Regions from separate parts of the Homo sapiens genome. Here region 1 is linked to region 2. Evidence: fine-mapped expression QTL. A gene starts in region 2. The other region holds a variant in brackets. All regions are shown on one strand. Distances are between the middles of the regions. Region 1 overlaps DENND5B (DENN domain containing 5B). Region 2 holds the start of DENND5B (DENN domain containing 5B).

Region 1 (9,247 bases), 54 kb after region 2:
AGTAGTTTCATAGTTTGAGGTCTTAAATTTAAGTTTTTAACCCATTTTCATTTGATTTTTTTTTTATATGGTAAGAGATACGGGGTCAACCTTCATTCTTCTGCGTAAAGATATCCAGTTTTCCCAGCACCATTGACTGAAGAGACTGTCCTTTCTCCATTGTATGTTCTCGGCACCTTTGTCTAAAGTGAGTTCACTGTAAATGTGTGGATTTATTTCTGCATTCTTTATTAGACTGTTTCACTGGTCTAATGTGTCTGTTTTTATGCCAGTATCATCCTGTTTTGGTTACTCTAACTGTAGTATAATTTGAAGTCAGGTAATAAAATTCCTCGTTTTGTTTTTTTCCTCAGGATAGCTTTGGCTATTCTGGGTCTTTTGTGGTTCCATGTAAATTTTAGGTTTGTTTTTTTCTCTTCTTTTCTTTTTTTTTTGGTGGGGGGGTTGGGGGGCGGGACAGAGTCTGACTGTGTCGCCCAGGCTGGAGTGCAGTGGCACAGTCTTGGCTCACTACAACCTCTGCCTCCCAGGTTCAAGCGATTCTTGTGCCTCAGCCTCCTGAGTAGCTAGGATTACAGGTAGTCGCCACCTCACCTGGCTAATTTTTGTATTTTTAGTAGAGACGATGTCTTACCATGTTGGCCAGGCTGGTCTGGAACTCTTGGCCTCAAGTGATCTGCCCACCTTGGCCTCCCAAAGCACTGGGATTGCAGGCATGAGGCATCACGCCTGGCCTAGAATTGTTTTTTCTACTTTTGTGAAGAACATTATTGGTATTTTTATAGGGATTGCATGAAATCTGTAGATTGCTTTGGGGAGAATGGGCATTTTAACAATATTGAGTTTTCCAACCCATGAATATGGAATGTCTTTCCAGTTTTTTGTGTCCTTTTCAATTTCTTGCTCCAGTGTTTTAGTTTTCATTGTAGGGACTTTTCACTTATTTGGTTAGTTCCTAGGTATTTAATTTTATTTGTAGTTATTGTAAATGGGATTACTTTCTTGATTTCTTTTTTAGATTGTTTGCTATTGGCCTATAGAAATGCTAGATTTTTGTAGGTTGATTTTGTATCCTGCAGCTTTACTGATTTTGTATGAGTTCTAATAGTTTTTTGGTGGAGTCTTTAGGTTTTTCCAAATACGAGATCATATCATCTGCAAACAAGGATAACTTGACTCCTTCCTTTCCAATTTGGATACCCTTTATATCTTTCTCTTGTCTGATTGCTCTAGCTAGGACTTCTAGTACCGTGTTGAATAACAGTGGTGAAAGTGGATATCCTTGTTGTATTCCAGATCTCAGAGGAAAGGTTTTTTTTTTTCCTCATCAGTATGATACTAGCTGAGAGTCTGTCATATATGGTGTAATTATATTAAGATATGTTTCTTCTATACCAAGTTTTTTTAAGGTTTTTATTATGAAGGGATGTTGAATGTTATCAAGTGCTTTTTAAGCATCCATTGAAATGATCATATGGTTTTTGTTCTTCATTTTGTTGATATGATGATATATCAGATTGATTGATTTGCATATGTTGAACTATCCTTGCATCCCTGGGATAAATCCTATTTAGTCATGATGAATGATCTTTTTAATGTGTTGTTGAATTTGGTTTGCTAGTATTTTGTTGAGGATTTTTGCATCAATTTTCATCAGTGATATTGGTCTGTAATTTTTTTTCTTTTAATATGTAATATGTCTTTGATTTTGGTATACAGGCCTCATAGAGTGAGTTTGGAATTATTCCCTCCTCCTCTAGTTTTCAGAATAGTTTGAGTAGGATTGGTATTCGTTCTTTAAATGTTTGGTAGACTTCTGTAGTGAAGCCATCAGGTCCCAGGCTTTTCTTTACTGGGAGATTTTTTATTATGGCTTTGATGTTGTTGCTTGTTATTGGTTTGTTCAGGTTTTGGATTTCTTCATGGTTCAATCATGGTAGGTTGTAGTATCTAGGAATTTATCCATTTTCTCTAGATTTTCTCATTTATTGGCATATAGTTGATCATAGCAGCCACTAATGATCCTTTGAATTTCTGTGGTATCAGTTGAATGTTTCCTTCTTTATCTCTGGTTTTACTTAGTTGTGTCTTCTCTTTTTCTTAGTCTGTCTAGCAGTTTGTCAATTTTTTTTTTCAAAAAAAAAAAAACCTTTTGTTTCATTGAAGTTTTGTATTTTTTTTGTTTCAGTTTCACTTATTTCTGCTCTGATCTTTATTTTTTGTTTTGTTTTGTATTTTGAGATGAAATCTCACTCTGTTGCCCACCCTGGAGTGCAGTGGCACAATCTCGGCTCACTACAACCTCCACCTCCCAGGTTCAAGCTATCCTCCTGCCTCAGCCTCCCGAGTAACTGAGATTACAGGTGCACACCACCATGCCCGGCTAATTTTTTTGTATTTTTAGTAGAGATGGGGTTTCACCAAGTTGTCCAGGCTTGTCTTGAACTCCTGACATCAAGTGATCCACCTGTCTCAGCCTCCCAAAGTACTGGGATTACAGGCGTGAGCCACTGCGCCTGGCCTGATTTTTATTATTTCTTCTACTAATTTGGGGTTTGGTTTGCTCTTGCTTTTCTAGTTCTTTAATATACATCATTAAATAGTTGTTTATTTGAGGTTTTTTTCTTTTTTGATGTAGGCACTTATAGCTATAAACTTGCCTCTCAGTACTGCTTTTGTTGTATCCCATAGCTTTTCGTATGTTGTGTTTCCTTTATCATTTATTTCAAGAAAATTTTCAATAATTCCACTTATTATTGATCTCTAGTTTTATTCTATTGTGGTCAGAGAAGATGCTTTATATTATTTCAGTTTTTTTAAATGTTTTAAGACTTGTTTTGTGACATAACATATGGTCCATCCTTGAGAATGATCCATGTGCTGAGGAAAAAGAATGTGTACTCTGCAGCTTTGGGATGAAATGTTATGTATGTATCTATTAGGTCCATTTGGTCTGATTAGGTCCATTTGGTACAGATTAAGTCTGATGTTCATTGATTTTCTCTCTGGAAGATCTGTCCAACGCTGAAAATGGGATGTTGAAGTTACCAGCTATTATTATATTGGGGTCTGTCTCTCTTTTTAGCTGTAACAATATTTGCTTTATGTATCTGGGTGCTCCAACACTGGTATATGGATCCAGTGTTGGGTCCATATACAATTACAATTGTTACATCTTCTTGCTGAATTGCCCCCTTTATCATTATATAGTGACCTTCTTTGTCTCTTCTTATAGTTTTTGTCTTGAAATCTATTTCGTCTGATATACGTATAGCTACTCCTAGTCTTTTTTGATTTCCATTGTCATGGAATGTGTTTTTCCATCCTTTTATTTTCAGTCTATGTGTGTCTTTGTAGGTGAAATGTGCTTCTTGTAGGCAACAGATCACTGAGTCTTGTTTTTTTGTTTTTTGTTTTTTTAATCCCTTCAGCCACTCTGTCTTTTTATTGGAGAATGTAGTCCATTTACATTCAGTGTTGTTATTGATGAGCAAGGGCTTATTCCTTCCATTTTGTTACTTATTTTCTGGTTGTTTTATGGGTCTTGTCTTCCATCCTTCCTCCCTGTCTTCCTTTTAGTGAAGGTAATCTTCTCTGGTGGTATGATTTTAATTTCTTATTTTTTATTTTCAGCGTATCTGTTGTATGTTTTTTGATTAGAGGTTACCATGATGCTTGCAAATACTATCTTATAACCTATTATTTTACACTGATAGCCTAACACTGTTTTCATAAACACACAAGCAAAAAGAAAACTAATAAAAACTCTACACCTTAACTTCATCCCCCTGCTTTCTAACTTTTTGTTGTTTTTATTTATATCTTATTGTACTGTCTGTGTCTTGAAAAGTTGTTGTAGTTATTTTTGATTTATCTTTTAGTCTACTTAAAATAAGAGTAATTTACACACCACAGTTACAGTGTTATTCTGTGTTTCTCTATATAATTACTGTTACCAGTGAGTTTTGTACCTTGAGATAATTTCTTAATGCTCATTAGTGTCCTTTTCTTTCTGATTGAAGTACACCTGTTAGCATTTCTTCTAGGCTAGATCTGGTGTTGATGAAATCCCTCAGTGTTTGTTTGTCTGGGAAAGTCTTTATTTCTCTATGTTTGAAGTATATTTTAGCCAGATAAATTATTCTGGGGTAAAAGTTTTTTTCCTTCAGCACTTTAAATATGTTATGCAACTCTCTTCTGGCCTGTAAGGATTCCACTGAAAATCTGCTGCCAAATGTATTGGAGTTCAGTTGTATATTGTTTCTTTTCTGTTGCTGCTTTTAGGATTCTTTCTTTATCCTTGACCTTTGGGAATTTGATTATGAAATGGCTTGAGATAGCTTTCTTTGGGTTAAATCTGCTTGGTGTTCTGTAATCTTCTTATATTTGGATATTGATAACCTTTCCTAGGTTTCTGCTATTATTTCTTTGAATAAACTTTTTTTTTTAAATACATCTTCTATTCCTATCTCTTTTTCTGCCTCCTCCTGAAGACCAGTAACTCTTAGGTTTGCCCTTTTGAGGCTATTTTCTAGATCTTGTAGGTGTACTTCATTCTTACTCTTTTTTCTTGTGTCTCCTCTGACTGTATTTTCAAATAGTCTGTCTTCAGGCTCACTAAATCTTTCTTCTGCTTGATCCTTCTGCTATTAAAAAACTCTGATGCATTCTTCAATATGTCAGTTGCATATTTCAACTCCAGAATTTCTGCGTAGTTCTTTTTTAATTATTTAAATCTCTTTGTTAAATTTTTCTGATAGAATTCTGAACTCCTTCTCCGTGTTATCTTGAATTTTGTTGAGTTTTCTCAAAACAGCTATTTGAATTCTCTGTCTGAAAGGTCACTGTATTAGTCCATTCTCGCATTGCTATAAATATCTGAGACTGGGAAATTTATAAATAAAAGAGGTTTAATTGGCCTATGTTTCCACAGGCTGTACAGGTAACGTGATTCTGACATCTGCTCGACTTCTGGGGGTGCCTCAGGAAACTTAGAATCATGGTGGAAGTCAAAGTGGGAGCAAGACGTCTCACATGATTAGAAGCAGGAGGAAGAGGGGCGGAGAGCTGCTACACACTTCTAAACAACCAGATCTTGCGATAACTCACTATCAGGAGGAACAGTACCGAGGGGATGGCTCTAAACCATTCGTCAAGGACCACCCTCATGATCCAGTCGCCTCCCACCAGGCCCCACCTCCAACATTGGAGATTATAATTTGACATGATATTTGGTGGGGATACAGATTCAAACCATATCAGTCACATATCTCTGTTTCTCCAAGATTGGTCCTTGCTACCTTGTTTAGTTCATTTGGTGAGGTCATGTTTTCCTGGATGGTCTTGATACTTGCGGATGTTTGTTGGTGTCTGGGCATTGAAGAGTCAGGTATTTACTGTAGTCTTTGCAGTCTAGACTTTTTTTTTACCCACTCTTCTTAGGAAGGCTTTCCAGGTATTTGAACTTGGGTATTGAGATCTAAGCCGTGTCTGCCTTAGGGGGCA[T/C]CCCAAGCCCAGTAACCTGTGGTTCTTGCGGATTTGTAGAGTTACCACCTTGGTAGTTTCGGATAAGACCTGGATGAATTCTCTGGATTACCAGGCAGAGACTCTGGTTCTCTTCGCTTACTTTCTCCCAGACAAACTGAGTCAGAGTGTGTGTGTGTGTGTATGTGTATATATGTGTGTGTGTGTGTGTGTCTCTCTCTCTCTCTTTCTCTGTGCTAATTCACCTGGAGGTGGGGTGGGGTGACAGAGTCACCCCTGTGGCTACCACCACTGGGACTGTGCTGGGTCAGACTGGAAGCCATGAGTATATCTTTATCCCTAGTGTTCATTAAGTAGCCTGCAGTGGACACTTAGGTCCCTGAGCTGATAGCACAAGAGGCAGATGTTCATGCAGTGATGGCGGATGGCTGGACACCCCTGCACAGTACTTGCAAGTGGTACCAGAGTGGCTTCTTTCTTACCTCAGTGTGATGCAGATATCAATGCCCAAACAAAAGCCTTTTTTTTTTTTTTTTTTTTTTTTTTTTTGAGACAGAGTCTTGCTCTGTCACCCAGGCTTGGGTGCAGTGGTGCAATCTGCGCTCACTGCAACCTCCACCTCCCAGGTTCAAGCTATCTTCCTGCCTCAGCCTCCCAAGTAGCTGGGACTACAGGCACACGCCGCCACACCCAGTTAATCAAACCAAAGCCTCTTGACCCCTTTGCATCTTGCTGCTGGGAAAGGAGACAGCAAAGATAACCTAGAACTCCTCCTGATGAACCATTACATCAAACCAGGGCTGAAAAACAACTTCAAAGAAACGGCATTTGATATTGCCAGGAGGACAAGTATCTATCACTCCTTCTTTGTAATGGTGGAAGGCTATACAAATTCTTCACCTCAGTCTTAATGGTTCTAGTAATTTTAGGTGTCTAAGTACCAGTGGCTCCTTCGTGCAAGATATAAAATATTCCCATAAGACAAAGTTGATTTAAAACGTCTTACTACAAAAATTCAGTGGTAAGGTAGTTACTATTATGTTCTTTAAAGTGAAATGCCTGACCTGATATCAGAATGTATTTGAAAGATGTTTGGATATATCTTTAATTATTTTTGTGGAGCTCGTGATTTTTATCAGAGATAATTTTAACTTGCCTAGACCTAAAAACTTGACATGACTTTGGGAGGCCGAGGCAGGCAGATCACTTGAGGTCAGGAGTTCGAGACCAGCCTGGCCAACATGGTGAAACCCTGTCTCTACTAAAAATACAAAATAAAAGTAAAAATAAAAATAAAAAGCTGAGTATCGTGGCACATGTCTGTAATCCCAGCTACTTGGGAGGCTGAGGCATGAGAATCGCTTGAACCTGGAAGGCAGAGGTTGCAGTAAGCCGAGATCGCACCACTGCACTCCAGCCTGGGCCACAAAGTGAGACTCAGCCTCAAAAAACCGACAAAAAAAAAACTTGACACAAGTTGAACAGAAACTGATTATTTTTGGTGCTGATCCAAGAGAAATGTATTTTTAAATACTGTACATCCTGGATCTTTGTTGAGTATTTAGTATATTGATATATATTTTTATAAGGTGAGGTAACTCAAAATTTAAGTCTTAAATATTGATGCAGTCATCTGTCTTCTCTACATTACCATAGCCAGTTACTTTCATTTTAAACCAGAAGAACTAACATATTAGTGACTTGAATCTTCATAAGTTAAAGGAAAAAAAAAAAACACTAAAAAGCCTAGATGTTTGTCTTTTAGACAATAGATAATTTTTAGGAAAGCAGTTAGCTAGGTGTTTCATCCATGAATGTTGTATACTGCCTCCCCTACCACAGTTCACACAATTCTGTGGATAGTCCTCCCTGGTCAACCTACATGTGATCTTTATTCTAATGGTGAATCAGTATGACCTTTTAGACATGCATACAACTACATTGTGGTCAAAGAGATCATAGTGTATCTGCCATCCAACTGCTTTTACCTGCCTAATCCTGCTGATTTGGGCACTGCTTACATAATCTCTTGAGTTCACAGGAAATGTTGATTTTCCAAGGTCTTTGTTTTATAGAAACCTTACAAAGCAAAGTGATAAGGGAAAAGGAATTCTAAAAGTGAGGGGATGATTATTATATTGAGGCTGAAACCACACAGTGGCTCAGGCTTAAAAACAGTATGGATAGTGACAAAAAGCATAATATAAACATTCAAGAAAATAAAGTATAAGTTTTAACAACAAAAATGATTTCTAGATTACTTACAATAGCTAATACAATGTAAATGCCATGTAAATAGCATGTACTGTATTTTTTATTTGTTGTACTGTATTTTTTGTTGTTGTATTGGCTTTTTAAATTGTTTTTTTTTCTTCAAATATTTTCAATCCACAGTTGGTCATATCTTCAGATGCAGAACTGTGGATTTGGAGAGCCTGCTGTAATAGGAGGGCAAATTTAAGCATTCATATTTTAACAATATTTAATAGCTCACAATATTTAATGTGAGCTTATTTACATGTAGTTTCTTTAATCAGATCAAAAGGATGATTATCCAATGACTTGTGCAAGCTCTTAGTCTCCAAAGCTTAGGAAAGAACTGCAGGTGATGTAGTCCAAGTCAATGAAATAAGCCTCAGAAAACCGATGCCTACAAATTGTGACTTGTTAAAATCAGAGTCCTGTTTATAATGTCTGAACCCAGAACTTGATCCTAGGTCTTCTGGTCCCACGGGAACCTTTTCTCTCATTGTACAAAATAATTCAGCCAGTGAAATAATCATCAACATATCTGAGATGGAACATGCTTTCATTTCAAACCAGATCCTCTTCCAGCCTTCCGTTTTTGAACAAGTTGGTACCACAATCTAACTAGTTGCCAAAGCCAGAAACTTAGAAGTTCTGAATACTTTATTTTTCCCAATTCCCCCATATCTAATTTTATCCTCAATAACTTATCAGGTACCATCAATTTTATCTCCTGTATAGGTCTCAAATCTACCTGCTTCTCTCTATCATTCTCCCACCTCCCTATTTCACTACTATATAACTCACTAATTTTCTCACAGGTCTATCCTGACCATTCTCCCATCTGTGTTCTCCATAGTGAAGCCAGAATGATCTTTTTAGAATGAGAATTTTTCCCCCTCCCTGCCTGGTCTCTTCTACACCACTTAAAGCCACCTCAGTGATTTTTCCATTGCTGTTATATTGAGGTCTATGAGCCTAAATATGTTAGCAAGCCCTGCCCACCCTCTTGTCTTAAACCTCCCCTCTCTTCCTGTATCTTTGCCCTCCAGACACATTGGGCTTATTTTGATTTTGGAATGCTTCTTACCTACTCCCCCTATCCCCCAGTCTTTGCCTAATTAATGACTAATTATTCTTTAAGTCCTAGGTCAGGCATCTGTCACTCAGGGAAGTCTCTGACATCCCAGAGTACTCCATGCCACCCCTTTATTTTAATCAACATTAAGTAAACTGTGCTTCTTTCTTCAGAGAATTATCTCAGTTTATAGCCATGTAGTCATAATTGCATTCCTTTGATTAATGTCAGTCTTCTCCCCAAACTGGAAATTCCATGAGAGCAGGCATTTGTTATTTTTTGTCCCCTGGTGTATTTTTTTATTTTCTATTATATTTCCAGTACACAGCACAGTGAAATGGCTCCATAAACGTTACCTGAGTAAGTGAAGTAATTCTCTGTAAGGTCTGGCTGAAGACCTTCATGTCTCCAAATAAGTAGCCTACAAGTATCTCTCTA
Region 2 (9,247 bases):
CCCAGGGGTTTGAGACCCGCCTGGGCAACAGGGTGAAACCCTGTCTCTACCAAAAATACAAAAAACTAGCTGGGTGTGATTGCACATGCCTGTGGGTGGTCCCAGCTCTTTGGGAGGCTGAGGTGGGAGGATTGCTTGAGCCAGGGAGGTGGAGGCTGCAGTGAGTCGAGATTGTGCCACTGCCCTCCAGCCTGGGTGAGTGACCCGCCACCCCCCCAAAAAAGAGGGCTGTAAGGGATCGAGAAGTAGCAAATACGATGAGGAGAATGGACTCTCCAAAATATTTAAGTCGTGTTAAGGAGAGGAGAGGTTATTTTTCTCTTTTGATGCTATGACAATCCTTGTCAACACCGTTCTTCACCACCACACTCCAGCCACATATAAACAACCAAGAAAGAAGGGATTGATTGCTAATGTAACTATTTAGAGCCCAAAACATTCATTGGACCACATTTTACTGGTAGTCAGAGTCACCATGTGCCACCAGCTTAGCAGTGCTATCAATCTCTCATTCCTCCACTTCCGCAGACCGTGGCAGGACTCAGCTATCCCAAGCATGCCATGCCGTCCATTTGAGGCTTTACCAGTAAGTCCTTTGGAGACAGCAGATCATTGCTCAGATTTTTGTTCACTGAGCTAATTTACTTCTCTGTCATTATTTCAGAGGACAATCTGCATATAATGATACATAGCTAATTCTTGAGTATCCTTTCAACTTCGTTTCATTGTAGCTTAATGCAGAATATACTTACACAGTGTCATCCTGAAGTGATAATTAAAAAAGTATACGGATATTTTCAAATTAGTGTTTAATTTTGTAATGTGTGACTATTTTCCTAAAAGCTTTAGGAAAGATTTTAGGAATTCTATTTTTATGAGATTAGTATATTTTAATTGCATGCATTGTTTGTTGGTGATTCAATTTTTTTCACCTTAAAAATATTAATGTGGGGCTTACAAACTCATAAATCAGTTACTGGTCAAATTTAAAAAAAAAATGACGTGCCTTGGCTAGTGCAAACAGTAAATCAGTTTTTTTACTGTGTTTGTTTGATTCGCTTGGAATCTAACAAACATTCTGTAAGAAGTTACCACCGAAGACAGGAGAAACAGATACCTGGCACTTCCTTCCTTACTAATGAAATGTTATGCATTTCAGTACTTTCTACGTGAGGAAAAGCAATATTGCATAAGAGTAATTAAAGTGTTCACAATTAGGTCCATACTCTGGTTTCTCTTCAGATCGTATACGTCTTTTGTCTTTTACTAAAGATTTCCGTGGAAGGGAACAATTCTGAGTTTTTGACTAAGTTTTGTTTTGTTTTGTTTGAGACGGAGTTTTGCTCTGTTGCCCAGGCTGGAGTGCAGTGGTGCGATCTTGGCTCACTGCAACCTCTGCCTCTTGGGTTCAAGCCATTCTTCTGTCTCAGCCCCCCAAGTAGTTGGGACTACAGGCACTCACCACCATGCCAGGCTAATTTTTGTATTTTTAATAGAGACAGGGTTTCACCACGTTGGCCAGTCTGGTCTTGAACTCCTGACCTCAGGTGATCTGCCCCCTTCGGCCTCCCAAAGTGCTGGGATTACAGGCGTGAGCCACCGTACCTGGCCTGACCAAGTTTTGAGGCCTTGCATATGTGGAGCTTATTTTTATTTTTATTTATTTTTTAATCTTTATTTTATTATTATTTTTTGAGACAGAGTCTCACTCTGTCACCTGGAGTGCAGTGGCATGATCTTGGCTCACTGCAACCTCTGCCTCCCGGGTTCAAGTGATTCTCGTGCCTCAGCCTCCCAAGTAGAGCTGGGATTACAGGTGTGCACCACCACACCTGGCTAATTTTTGTATTTTTAGTACAGACGGGGCTTCACCATGTGGATCAGGCTGGTCTCGAACTCCCGACCTCATGTGATCCACCTGCCTCGGCCTCCCAAAGTGCTCGGATTACAGGTGTGAGCCACCATGCCCAGCCCAGGACTTATTTTTTAAAAAATGTTACAGATATTAAAGTTTGTATATTTTTCTGGTAGAATCAACAACCTGTTATCACCTAGATAACTGCTCTTCTTTCAACACTCAAATATAAATTGAGGGGCTAAATAGGACCAGAGTTCTGCTAGATACCAGAAAAGTGAAGAACCACAGAGTCCAACTCTTGCTCTGTGGAGTTTACAACACAGCTAAGAAGACACAGAAAAGCCATTACAAGTGTTTTTGAAGAAGTACAGGGTGCAACATGACCTAAAGGTCAATTACCCAGACTGTGGCTCACCCTGATTTCTTGATTCTTCTTGTATTTTCTTTTCTTTTCTTATTTTTTTTGAGACAGTCTTACTCTGTTGCCCAGGCTGGAGTGCAGTGGCGCGATCTCGGCTCACTCTAATCTCCGCCTCCCAGGTTCAAGTGATTCTCCTGCCTCAGCCTCCCGAGTAGCTGGGACCACACGTGCGTGCCACCACACTGGCTAATTTTTTGTATTTTTAGTAGAGACAGGGCTTCACCATGTTGGCCAAGATGGTCTCGGTCTCCTGACCTCGTGATCCGCCCGCCTTGGCCTCCCAAAGTGCTGGGATTACAGACATGAGCCACTGCACCCGGCCAATTCTTCTTATATTTTACTAATTATTATTTTATTGATTTTTTTTTTTTTTTTTTTTTTTTAGTAGAGACGGAGTTTCACCATGTTGGCCAGGCTTGTCTCAAACTCCTGACCTCAAGTGAGCCTCTCGCCTTGGCCTCCGAAAGGACTGGGATTACAGGCTTGAGCCACTGCACCCGGCCTCATTTTATTTTTATAGAGACAGGGTCTCTCACTATTTTGCCCAGGTTGGTCTTGAATTCCTGGACTCAAATGCTCCTCCTGCCTTGGCCTCTCAAAGTGCTGGGATTACAGGCCTGAGCCACCATGGCCAGCCTCTTTCATTTCAAAATTGAAGAAAGAAAGTGAAGATACAAGCTACATTAAATGATGGTATGCACGCACATGTATCTTCTAGGAAGAACATTATTCAGTCAAATAATCGAGGTTCTCTCAGGCAACCTCTCTGGAAGGTTTGCTTGTATGTCTAGTGGTAGATGCCCCAAATCCCCAAAGAAGAAAGCAGGGAGTGGTGTGGAAGGGGTTGCCATGTGGAGATGAATTGCATTCAGTTTTCTATCTTTTAAGTTTTATTTTTACTTACATGGCCGGGCACAGTGGCTTATTATGCCTGTAATCCTAGCACATTTGGGGGCCAAGGCGGGAGGATCACTTGAACCCAGGAGTTTGAGAGCAGCCTGGTCAATACAGTGAGACCCTGTCTCTTAAAAAATTATTTTTTAAATAAATAAATGTTATTTTTTTACTTAGATGGAGACAGAGTCTCCCTCTATTGCCCAGGCTGGTCTTGAACTCCTGGTCTCATGTGATCTTCCTACCTGGGCTTCCCAAAGTGTTGAGTAAATTACAGGTGTGAGCCACTGAGCCCAGCCAGTTTTCTTTCAAAGGAAAAAGAACTGGTTGTCGAGTTCCTTCCGAGAAGGCAAAAGACAGCTGAGCAGGGCAAGAAAGCCGTGCCTTTGGGAGGAGCAGAGTTCATGGTCTAATTCCTGTTGCTTTAGCCTCCGATTGTTACTTGCGGGGAGAGCCGATAACATCGGATGGGTACAGGGCTGCGGAACTGGAGCGCCTTGGCTATTTACACTGACCTGGAAAATGTCAGGATAAATGACAGAAGGCGGGGGTTGGTGACTGCACTCCTTCTAGAAGTCTCAACGCTTTGTGGGTATTGAGTTGTGTTTTTTCCCCCTCACGGTTGACTTGTCACTAAGTCACTAAGGATGGCCTGTAAATGGGGTGACGGCTGGGGGAAGGGAGGACCTTAAAGTGAGACAGGCACCCCCACACAGGTCACAGTTTAAAAGACGATGGTTCAGACCGTTATGCGAAATGATCTCAGAGCGGCTGTTCACCTTCCCCAAAGCTGCATTAAAAGAAATAAGGATGGGTGACAACCCCTTTAGAAGACAGACCCCCACACTGAGGCTAGCCCTCTTATCGGCTGGCCAGGGCGAGGAGGGGTGTGTGCAGGGTCGCCCTCGATGCCGCAGCCGGGGCCAGTGGGCACGAATGCGGCCCCACGCCAGGCTTGGCCTCCGAACCCGCTAGGCGCGCGCGCACGGTAGAAGCGCGCGCCTCCGTCCCTCGCGAGCGCGCCCCCCACCCCTCTCCGTCGCACGCGCCGAGCCCCGGCGCCCCCGCCCGCCCCGCGCTCCCACAGCCCGAGCGCCGCTCAGCTGACCCGCGGGCGCCAGACGCGGCGGCTCTCAGCTCGCGAGCGCAGCTGCGGCTGCGAGGGCCTCTCAGGCCGACACTCCCCCCGCGCCCCTCCCCCACCCGGCCGGGCTCCGGACCCGCCGCGCGCGAGCCCGCGGCCGCTTCCCCCGCGCCGAGCGAGGAGGCAGGCTGCGGCGGCGAGAGGCGGCTGCGCGGCCATGGGCGCGCCAGTGTCGCCCTAGGGCGGGCGCACAGACCACAGCCGGAGCGGTGGTGGCAGCCTCCGCAGAAAGCCTTCCCGGGCGGCGGCGGCGGCGGCCCCTGGAGCAGCGCGGCCGGGATGAGCGGGAGCTGCGCGGCGCCCGGCCCGGGCTCGGGCTCCTCCCCGGCCGCCTGCCGCTTCGCGCACTACTTCGTGCTGTGCGGGATCGACGCGGACAGCGGGCTGGAGCCTGACGAGCTGGCGGGTAAGGCCAGGGCTGCGGCGGCGCTGAGCCCCCTCAGGGGCGCGGGGGACGCTGTGGGGACGCGCGGGAGGCGGGGTGCAGGCTCCAGACAAAGTCAGCTCCCGGTGGCGCCCTCCCGCCGCTTTCTGGCCGAACTGGCGCTCGGGCGCGATTTAATGACATTGTTATTTATTCCGCGTGCGGGCTTTGCGGCTGCGCCCACCGGGGCTTTCGCCTCCAGGCGCTGGGTTATTAATAACAGGCGCGGGGGTGGCCCCAAGGGCACGGACCCCGCCTGGCGCGCCGGCCCCTTCGCTTGCAGCCGCACTCGGAGGCGGCCGGTGAGTCACCGGGCGCGCGGGCTGCCCCCCGACCGCCGTGCCTGCCTCCCACCCGCCAGCCACCCGGCCCCGGCCGCGAAGTTTCGGCCCCGCACGTGACGCGGCTTTCGGGCCTCTTCGGGAGACGGGGAGTCGGACTCAGCTCGGCTCCCGCCGGGGTAGCGTCCGCGGAGGAGCCGGTGGCCGTGCGGAGCGAGCGCGGGGCGGGGACCGGTCGGACTCTGCCCTCTGCGCCGCCTGCCGCTCTGCGGTGCCGGCCAAGTCACCTTTTGGAATCCTGTGGATTTGGCCGCGTCTGGGAGCTGGCAGGGACCTTTGGACGCTCGGGACCCAGCACCGCGCTTTGTTGACACTGCCTACACTGTTCCCGAGTTTAAATTCAGTTGGGTGCACCGTGTGTTAGTGCCTGGTTTTCCCGGAGGGGTACCGGTCCTTCCGCTTGACTCATTTGATGGCGCAGTGCGGGGCTGTGCTGGGCAAACGACGCCGTTAAAAGGGGCCGCTAAAGGGCGATGGGCGGGGGCAGGGCAGCGGAGTGCGCAGTGTCGAGAGGAGGCCGGGGAGAAACAACTGATTTCATTTTTCACGCCTGTTCCTTTCTGCTTGCCTCCGCGGGATCTGAATCTTGATTTGTTGTTGTTGTTAAATGGGTGAGAGAAGTGACATCTACCGCCTGAACTTTGTGTTAAAGACTTAGGTCATAGCCTTTCAGAACAACTTCCTTTGGACAAATAATTCCTTATTGATTGCACTAACGTAAATTTTTCGCTTTTCCTTTGGTGGGGGTGGGGAGACTGGGAAGAATATATTAAATAATAAACAATAGTAAACAAAACTGTTCAGCCTTAAAATACAGTCCCCATCAACCCACGTCTTGGCTATCTTCTTCTTAACTCAGCTTCAGAGCAAAACATTTTCTTTTTTTCATATTCTTCGGAGGTAGAAACACAAAACATTTTCAACAAAAACTGTAAGTCTAGTTTTAGTTAAAAAAAAATTTGGAGAGATAATAGAATACCAAGTTTTTCCGTATGTGTAATTATGTAATCACATTGTTTCTTCAACTAAGATTTCATGTACATGTTAAGAATGGCTTTGTTAAAGGATATGAAGAAAAAATGTCTGCAGAGAGATTTGGAGAGATTCTTCTCGAGATTGGTGAAGGAATATTGTTATTTTTCTAGACTCCTTTCTTCCCTAAAGATCCTAAACATTTGTGGCACCAGGGTCACTTGGAGGCCTTCTGTCAGTGATGACTAATGAAAGGAAAAAAGCCTGTATTTTTCTTTTCCGTTTGCCTACTGAAGCTAAAACTGTACCTTTTAGGTGTGACCTAGGACTCTTTAGGCACAGAGAGAATGATGTTAACAAAACCATCAATTAGACTTTAATGCATTTTTAAGAAACAAACTATGATGTCTCTTTTTGCAAAACTGTGTGAGTGTGGGTGATTGGGATTTCTGCTTCTCATAATATTTAATGTATTCAGGTAATAATGTATTTTGCCTTGTAATATTTCAGTATCATTCATCCAACAGTTTTGAAAGCATCTATCTGTAGTCGGTTTTTTAGGCACTGGGGACAGCTGTGAAGAAAGCAGTCAGAAATCCCTGCCATCATGGAGCATACGTTCTAGTGTAAAGAGATAATGAAAATACAATCATCTCTCCGTAACCATGGGGGATGGATTCTAGAGTGTCCCCCACACCAAAATCCTCGGATGCTGAAGTCTCTTATAATAAAATGTTGTAGCATTTGTATATAACCTATGAACATTTTCCTGTACACTTTGTCATCTCTAGATTACTTACAATACCTGTTACGTTGTAATGTTATGTAAATAGTTGTTATACTGTATTGTTTAGGGAATAATGACAAGAAAAGAAGTCTGTACATGTTCAGTACAGATGCAACCATTGTAGGCCTAACTACATTTTCAATCTGTGCTTGGTTGAATCTGTGGATGCGGAGTCCACGTGAAGTGCCGACTGTATATAGTTCTCCAGATGTTAATAAGTGCTATGAGGAAAAATAAAGCAGGGGAGTGGATTTAGGGACATGCCAGCAGAGTGGTGGGATGGTGGGGTTGTGATTTTAAATAAGATGGTTAGGGAAGGCCTCACAGGGAGGGTGACATTTGAACAGAGCCTTGAAGGACATGAGGAAGCAGGCCAGATGGATCACCTGGGGGCACAGCATTGCACGCAGAAGAAACAGCAAGTGCGAAGACCCTGAGTGGGACAGTCACTAGTTTGTGCTGGTAACAGCAAGGAGTCCAGTATGGCTGGAGCTGAGGGAGAGGGAGAGTAGTAGGTAAGATCAAAGAGAAAGGGCAGGGGAGATTGTATAGGGCCTCATGCAGTTTTTAGGCTTTTAACTCTGAGATGGGAAAGTATTGGAAGGTTTTGAGCAGAGTAATGACAAGATCTGATGTGCCTTCTAAAATGACTGTTGTGGCTGCCATGTTGGGTAGACTATATCAGGGCAGGGGTAGAGGCAAGAGACCAGTTAGGGAGCTCTTTCAGTATTTGAGGTGAGAGGCTGGATGCTGTGGCTCACGCCTATAATCCTAGCACTTTGGAAGGCCGAGGCAGGTGGATCACTTGAGGTCAGGAGTTCAAGACCAGCCTGGCCAATATGGTGAAACCACATCTCACCTGAAAATACAAAAAGCTGGGCGTGGTGGCACATGCCTGTAATATCCCAGTTACTCTGGAGGCTGAGGCAGGAGAATCGCTTGAACCCAGGAGGTGGAGGTTGCAGTGAGCTGAGATCGTGCCACTGCACTCCAGCCTGGGCAACAGAGGGAGACTCTGTCTCAAAAAAAAAAAAAAAAAAAAAAAAAAAAAAAAAAAAAAAGGTATTTGTGGTGAGAGAAGTTGTTGGCTTGGTGAAGCAGCAGGAAGGACTCAGATTCTAGATAGATGTTGAAGGTAGGCCCAACGAGATTTGCTGATGATTTATATGAATATGTATGAATTCTATGAATATGGTAGTCATATTCAAAGAAGTGATCAAAGATGACTCCAAGATTTTGGGGCTGAACAATTATAAACTTCTCTCCTGAAATAGGAAGACTGATGGAGAATCAGACTGGAAATCAGTTCAGTTTTGGATGTATTAAGTTTGATGTGTCCATTAGACATTCAAATGGAGATGTCACATAGACAAGACATCTCTTGGGGGAAGATCTGGACTGTAGGTATAAATTTAAAGCCATGAAATTACTTAAGGGTTGAGTATAGATAGAAAAGAGAGGAGGACACGCAAATGATTGAGCCCTGGGGCCATTCTAGCATGCATAGGTGGGGAGGATGAGGAGGAGGAGGCAACCGAGGAGATTAAGGAGTGTGGATAGTGACATGGCAGGAAAACAGGAGAATGTCATATCATGTTCTCAACTAAGAATTTTCTTGACTATTTCCGTAGAGCAACATTTGGGGATCATGAAACTGTGTTAGGCAAATTAGCCAGAAGGTAGTTTCTGTTTTGCTGCATTAATTTCAAAGTTAATGATAGTCAAGTTTCTATTTTGCCTTGCTGGAGCTGATCTGTCTTTATCACACTTTCTTAGCAAGTTGTCACCGTGCCTCTAGAAGGTCTTAATTGACTTCTATTAAACATAAATTCTACCAGTTGCTTCATAGACTTTCTTAACATACGCATATTCCTAGAATTCACACTCTGCAGGTGGTGGGACATTGAAATCAAAGACAACAACAGTTAAATAGACTAAGACCTTATAATAAAACTTATCAAGGCTTCAAATGGTTTTTAGACCCTCCTAGTAAAACCAAGCTTAAACAGCAATGGAAGAGACTTCTTTCATCTCAAATACGTAGAACTCTTAATAGCTGAAAATAATTTAACTATATACATAAAAATATATTTTAAAATGGAGGACTTAGAAACTTTATGGTGATGTCCACATGTATATACTGATATACTCATATTACCTGTCGTCCTTTCTGTACCACATCGAAGTTCTTGTGCTTCTCCTACCCACTGTATATTTTCAAGAGGTACTTTGCCCATGAACAAAACGTCCTTTGGGAGAAATGTTTAAATTCCCTTTAAATATTAAAGATAAGGAAAAGGTTTCAAAACGAGATTCTTTATTGCATGTAGAAGAAAGGAGGTATAAATGGAGGTAAATCATGCAATTAGTTGATGTCAGGGAAGGCAGACATCATTTTGAAATCTT

The links. PIP is the estimated chance that this variant, and not a neighbour inherited with it, causes the effect.
Region 1: its variant is fine-mapped to the expression of DENND5B in blood mononuclear cells (TOPMed, PIP 0.93).

What each region holds. Positions count from the first base shown.
Region 1 is chr12:31,531,860-31,541,106 of GRCh38, reverse strand. The region is part of intron 1 of DENND5B (DENN domain containing 5B); the gene reads left to right. It also overlaps the pseudogene ANKRD49P2. Among named protein-coding and RNA genes, the nearest start is that of DENND5B-AS1, 53 kb to the left of the region's middle. The variant T/C (reference allele first, on the strand shown) is at 5,506.
Region 2 is chr12:31,586,182-31,595,428 of GRCh38, reverse strand. DENND5B (DENN domain containing 5B) reads left to right here and starts at 4,293. Exons shown (of 21, transcript NM_144973.4): 1 at 4,293-4,723. The coding sequence starts at 4,597. DENND5B-AS1 (DENND5B antisense RNA 1) reads right to left here and starts at 5,506. Exons shown (of 3, transcript NR_046909.1): 1 at 5,310-5,506. It also overlaps the pseudogene RNU5F-4P. RefSeq lists enhancers at 3,483-3,712, 5,693-5,772 and silencers at 4,143-4,432, 4,503-4,772, 4,923-5,262.